Regions from separate parts of the Homo sapiens genome. Here region 1 is linked to region 2. Evidence: fine-mapped expression QTL. A gene starts in region 2. The other region holds a variant in brackets. All regions are shown on one strand. Distances are between the middles of the regions. Region 1 overlaps SPAG16 (sperm associated antigen 16). Region 2 holds the start of SPAG16 (sperm associated antigen 16).

The links. PIP is the estimated chance that this variant, and not a neighbour inherited with it, causes the effect.
Region 1: its variant is fine-mapped to the expression of SPAG16 in iPS cells (HipSci, PIP 0.93).

Annotation. Positions count from the first base shown.
Region 1 is chr2:213,740,349-213,743,270 of GRCh38, reverse strand. The region is part of intron 10 of SPAG16 (sperm associated antigen 16); the gene reads right to left. Among named protein-coding and RNA genes, the nearest start is that of MIR4438, 16 kb to the left of the region's middle. The variant T/G (reference allele first, on the strand shown) is at 1,658.
Region 2 is chr2:213,282,962-213,285,883 of GRCh38, reverse strand. It overlaps SPAG16 (sperm associated antigen 16), which reads right to left and starts at 1,420. Exons shown (of 16, transcript NM_024532.5): 1 at 1,265-1,420. The coding sequence starts at 1,400. It overlaps SPAG16-DT (SPAG16 divergent transcript), which reads left to right and starts at 1,675. Exons shown (of 3, transcript NR_161186.1): 1 at 1,675-1,851. RefSeq lists enhancers at 1,018-1,097, 1,168-1,217, 1,258-1,387.

The DNA of each region.
Region 1 (2,922 bases), 460 kb before region 2:
AACATACATTTTAGTTGGAAGAGGAGATACAATAAACACTAAAATAATTTTTTAAAAAACAACAATACAGCCGGGCGCGGTGGCTCACGCCTGTAATCCCAGCACTTTGGGAGGCTGACGCGGGTGGATCACGAGGTCAGGAGATAGAGACCATCCTCGCTAACACAGTGAAACCCTGTCTCTACCAAAAATACAAAAAATTAGCCGGGCGTGGTGGCGGGCGCCTGTAGTCCCAGCTACTCGGGAGGCTGAGGCAGGAGAATGGCGTGAACGCGGGAGGTGGAGCTCGCAGTGAGTGGAGATCTCACCACTGCACTCCAGCCTGGGCGACAGAGCGAGACTCCGTCTCAAAAAAACAACAATACGGCATGTTAAATACTGGCAAATTTGTAGAATTAAGAAATAAGCAGCCGAGCACGGTGGCTCACGCCTGTAATCCCAGCTACTCAGGATTACTTGGAAGGCCGAGACGGGTGGATCACCTGAGGTCAGGGGTTCAGGACCAGCCTGGCCAACATGGTGAAACGCTGTCTGTACTAAAAAATACAAAAATTAGCCAGGCGTGGTGGTGGGCGCCTGTAATCCCAGCTACTCGAGAAGCTGAGACTGGAGAATTGCTTGCACCCGGGAGGTGGAGGTTGCAGTGAGGCGAGATTGCGCCACGCACTCCAGCCTGGGCGACAAGACCGAAACTTCGTCTCAAAAAAAAAAAAAAAAAAAAAAGAAATAAGCAAAATAAGACAGGAGGGATCAAGAGTGTACCTGTAGAGGTATTTATAATTTTATGTGAGGTGATCAGTGGGTATGGTAAATACGTGAGTAAATTTATAAACTAGTAATTGAACAGAACAATAAGATAATGTCTTGTTAGTATCATAACAGAATGAAATTAAAATATACAATAGTAACATGTCAGTCAGAAGAGGTGCAAATGGACTATACTAATGTCCTTGTATTCTTGAAAGGGAAGACAAATGAATTTATTAATATTCAACTAGAAGTATATAAGACAGAATCTGTACTGTCTCCAAAATTAGTAAACAATCTGTAAGTTCCAAAATTCTTAGGGAAAAAATTTAATTGAAAATGCTTTTGTAATAAAAAGGAAACCAAGAAAAGAGAGTAAAAAAAAAATACTAAACACAGAACAGCAAGTACAAAACCAGATGGCAGATTTAAACCCAAACACATTGGTATTACATCAACTATAAATTGATTTAATGCTCCAATTAAAAACAAATGAGAACTAGATTAAAAAAACAAAACTATAAGCCACTTACAAAAGACTTCTACAACACAATTACACAGAAAGGTTGAAAAAAGAATGAAAAATAATAACCATGCACATATGAAGCCAAAGAAACCTAGTGTAACTCTATAAATATTAGACAAGAGAGTTCAAGGAAAAAAGAGAACAACTCAAAATGATACAGGTTTAATTCAACAGGTAGATATAACAATTGCAAATCCAATTTGAGTTAATAATATAATCTCTAAATTTATAAAGCTGAATTTACAATATACCTATCAAGCTATTTGGCACATATATAAAATGACTAATGTAATGTTTAGTCATTGTAAAATCCCTAAGATTTTACACTGCAATAAAAATGGCCTTCTTGGAAACATTCAATTTTAGTTTGCTATGAATTATTTT[T/G]TAAAATCTGAAATCAACATTATAATCTCTGCTTTCTTTTATCTGTACTTGATTAATATAACTTTGACTAAACTTTAATTTATCATCTCTGTGTATCATTTTATTTTACTCAGCGGTTTACTTTTTTTTCCTTAGTCTTTCAACAGGTAAGGTTAACTCATTTACAATTATGATCCTAACAGATATTTGCTTCTGGTTTTTGAAGGCAATGGAGCATACTCAGACTTGGGGAGGTAGAGAATACTGATTGGATTTAATTCAAATTCCAACATATAGGAGTCAGCATATCACCCAATCTGTCTGTCCTTAACTTCCTTTATTTTTGAAATGGAAATAATAACAATAATGTATTATTAAATATACTTATACATAGAAAATGTTTAAAGTGGTGCCTGTAGACATGCGCTTAACTAGTATTTTTTATTTTATTCAGATTTTTATCATATATTCTTACTTTACCCTTACCTTTAATAAAGATTAATAAGATTTCTCCTTAAGAAACATTTATTATATTTTAATTTCTTTTAGTTGTCACATTAACTAAAGTTATGAGGCGTTAAATTAATAGTTGAATAACTTAATGCTCAGCACCTGCTGTTTTAGCCCTAAAATTCCCCAAACTTTAAAAACTCACACTATGGCATGATATATTTTAAGGAAACATAGGTTGAAAGAACAGTTAATTTCTGTTTTAATCTGTTTGAAAGTGGTTTCTATTGCCTCAGCAGTCACTGATGGGGATGGTTAGAATGCTGTCAATAAATGATAGTGAAATGGGTTCCAAGTAATTGGTCTTTCTTTGTCCATAGCCCAGCTTCACCTTCACGCCCCATCTTTACCCCACACTCTTGGGTGTTCAGCCAACAGTTACCCTTTCTCTTCCTCTTACTGACTTTGCCACAGCCTCTCACTGAGGAGGTTAGTAAGTTACCCTTGTTATTTTCACTTTACACAGTGTATATGCCCTATAACTAGTAGAAGTCTGTGGCATATGATGCCTTGCTGATACGGGACTTCCCCCTGGAGTTTATTCATTTGCTCATTTCAGTAAGCATGATGAGAGTGAGGCAAATGATGATGGCCTGAACTACAACGCAATCTACCAGAAGACTTAAAATTGACTTCTTAAAAGAAAATGTGGCCCTCTTTACAGGCAGAGCCTTCACTCACCTCTTTTTGGTAGTGAGCAGCTGTTCCTTTCTGGTCCACTCCCATTTCATAAGACATCAACCTTTCACATTTCATAAGACATCAACCTTTCTTTA
Region 2 (2,922 bases):
TAGGAAGAATTATGAAAATCGTTGTTAAAGAGGAATATCACTGGAAAAGACTGCCTGTTACATCTACGAAAACAGTATAAAACCTCATTTATGACACTAAAGCACCCATATATTTCTTTCAAATTCATTTCAAGCGATTCAAATTTCTATTCCTGTAAAAGTCGTTTTTGCACCCAATAAAATACTACATATTTTCTTTAATCTTTCAGCTAAATTCTTCAAAGCTCTCTGTAGTGTGGATGTGTACTGAGCCTGAGTCAGGACAGGTTAATCGGCTTGTCAAAGCTCACGAAATGAATCATTGCTGGATTTCTGAAATCTTGAATTAAACCTGGAGAGGATTACAGTTGGACAAACAAATAAGATTTGGCAGATTTTGGAGTTTCCTTGGTATCTTTAAGAACTGAACAGATAATCATCTCTTTCTTACCTCCCTGAATAAAGGAGTTACATGTCTTTTTCTCATGAACCCTCCCCGTCTCCCTAGTAGGAATTAATCTATATAACTAGAGGAAAGAAGTTCTAAAGCCTTACACAAGAAATAGTGGACCTAATTATCCACACATTGTTATTCAATTTTTCTGGTACTTCCGATAAAAATCGCTAATCACCATCTGCTTTATTCCTAATATCTCTGAGCTGTGTAGCTCACCAGATCATTATTTATTTGCTCAAGAAAAAAAAGCAACTATACTATTAGTATTTATTATTAAGTAGTCAAACTTGGAACTACTCAGGAAGATAATGCTATCAAAACTAAGCATTTAAGCATTAACTGGACCATCGAACAGGATCGTGGGTTGGGTATTCTGAGCTTCAGCTCCTTAAAGTCCAATGGCAGAGGTCTTTCCCTAGTCTCCTAACGTTCCTCCGTTGAATTTATTGGGACGGCTTTCTGAAAGATTGAGGGCTTATTTAGGAAACCCATTATTTGAAAGGAGGGTTGAAGCAATTTGTTGTGCTGTCTTAACATAAAAAGCAACCCTCCATCCAAAATGTACTGAGTGGTTACTAAGTATGAGGCCTTGGAAGGTCTCCCAACTCTTCTAACAGGTACAGGACACCCTGGGCTACTAAGGGCGAGAAATTCAGTGAGTGGCTCTCAGGAAGACTGTGGTGGCAAAAACAGCACCTTGAAGTCCAACAGAGGCTCCTCCGGAGTGGCCCCAAGGCTCAAAAGGCGCCGCCAGTGGGAGGCCCTCGCCTTCGTCCCAACACCCATTACCCGCCAGCGCAGCGGGCCGCGCCTCCACGGGAAGGATACGTTCCAGGTAGTAGGCGCCCTCAGCCGCCACCGCGTCCGCCGTGTCCCTCGCGTCCCCGGCTGCCGTCAAACCCATGCCCAACGCCTCTTCCAGGACCCTCACGGCGGAGCTGGGCATCCCTCGCTGAGCAGCCATCTCTGGCGCTTCGGGCCCCCACCCCCAGCAGGCCCACAGCCGTCCCTAAGGGCAACAGCGAAGACGCTACCCAACGGCCCCCGGGAGCTCTCGCGAGATTCCGGCATCTCTCACCCCGCCCCACGGACCAGCCCCGGGCACGTAAGGGTTACCGGGAGTCCAGGGAGCTGTCGCCCTCCCGCGCCTCCCAGTTACCGTGGCAACGATGTTGCCTAGTTAACGCGAGAGCTCGGGCGCAGCTCTGGGAGCGGACAAGATACAGTAAACAATTGGCTTGCATTGCACCTTCCTACCCAAGCAGCTTGGTTTTCTTTCGCTTTGACCCTGTAATTTCTTTCCCACTTCGTTGTCGTCTCTGAATTACCTTTCTCTTGATTCTTGCCCATTAGCATCCTCCAATTTCAGATGTTTGTAGATCCCCAAGTGTTCCCAGGGAAAACTACTAGAAAAGGTGAGTTCTCAACACCTGGAATTTTTTAAAAAATGAAAAAATAAAGTTCTAGAAATCATAATAGAAAGACTGACCCAGGGGAGCTACCAGACGCTCCTCAGATGCTTAGCAATGAAGAACTATGGTGTTCAGCTTTGTCAATTCCTTTCTTGTGATCTTTAATGCATTTAGCTGGACATCTGTTTTGAGTTTGGTTCCATATACTAAGACTTGGAATAGTATTTGTAGCATTGATTCTCGCCAAGGTAAAAACAGTTGCATAAAAATTATGAGCTACAAATTTGGTCCTGACAAATGTATGCAGTTGACACTTGCCCCATCATGTATAGTCTTATTGCTGAGAGGATCTTCCTCAGGTTATATCGCGTATGTATCAGAAGCAAATTCAAGGCCCTTTTCTTTGCAAATATTTTTTTTTCCCTTAACTTTTATTTTAGGTTCAGGGGTACAAGTGCAGGTAAGCTCATGTCGCAGGGGTTTGGTATATAACTTATTTCGTCACCCAGGTACTAAGTGTAGTACCCAATAGTTATTTTTTCTGATCTTCTCCCTCCTCCCACTCTCCTCCTCAAGTAGGCCCCAGTGTCTGTTGTTCCTTCTTTGTGTCCATTTGTTCTCATTATTTAGCTCCCACTTACAACTAAGAACATGCAGTATTTGGTTTTCTGTTCCTGCATTAGTTTGCTAAGGATAATGGCCTCCAGCTGCATTCATGTCCCTGAGAGGACATGATCTCATTCTTCTGTGGCTGCATAGTATTCCATGGTATATGTGTACCACATTTTCTTTATCCAGTCCGTTGATGGGCATTTAGGTTGAATCCATGTCTTTATCATGAATATCAATGAACACGCATGTACATGTGTTTTTATGGTAGAACAATTTCTGTTTCTTTGGGTATATACCCAGTAATGGGATTGCTAGGGCAAATGGTATTATTTTTCATTCTACATTTCTTGGTGAAAACTGGAAGCCAGTGATCCTATAAAAGCTCCCATTTATTACCAAAAGGTAGCAGTAACTTCCTAAGGAGGTGTTTGAGAGTACGTGTGTCAGAGCCAGAGAGACAGC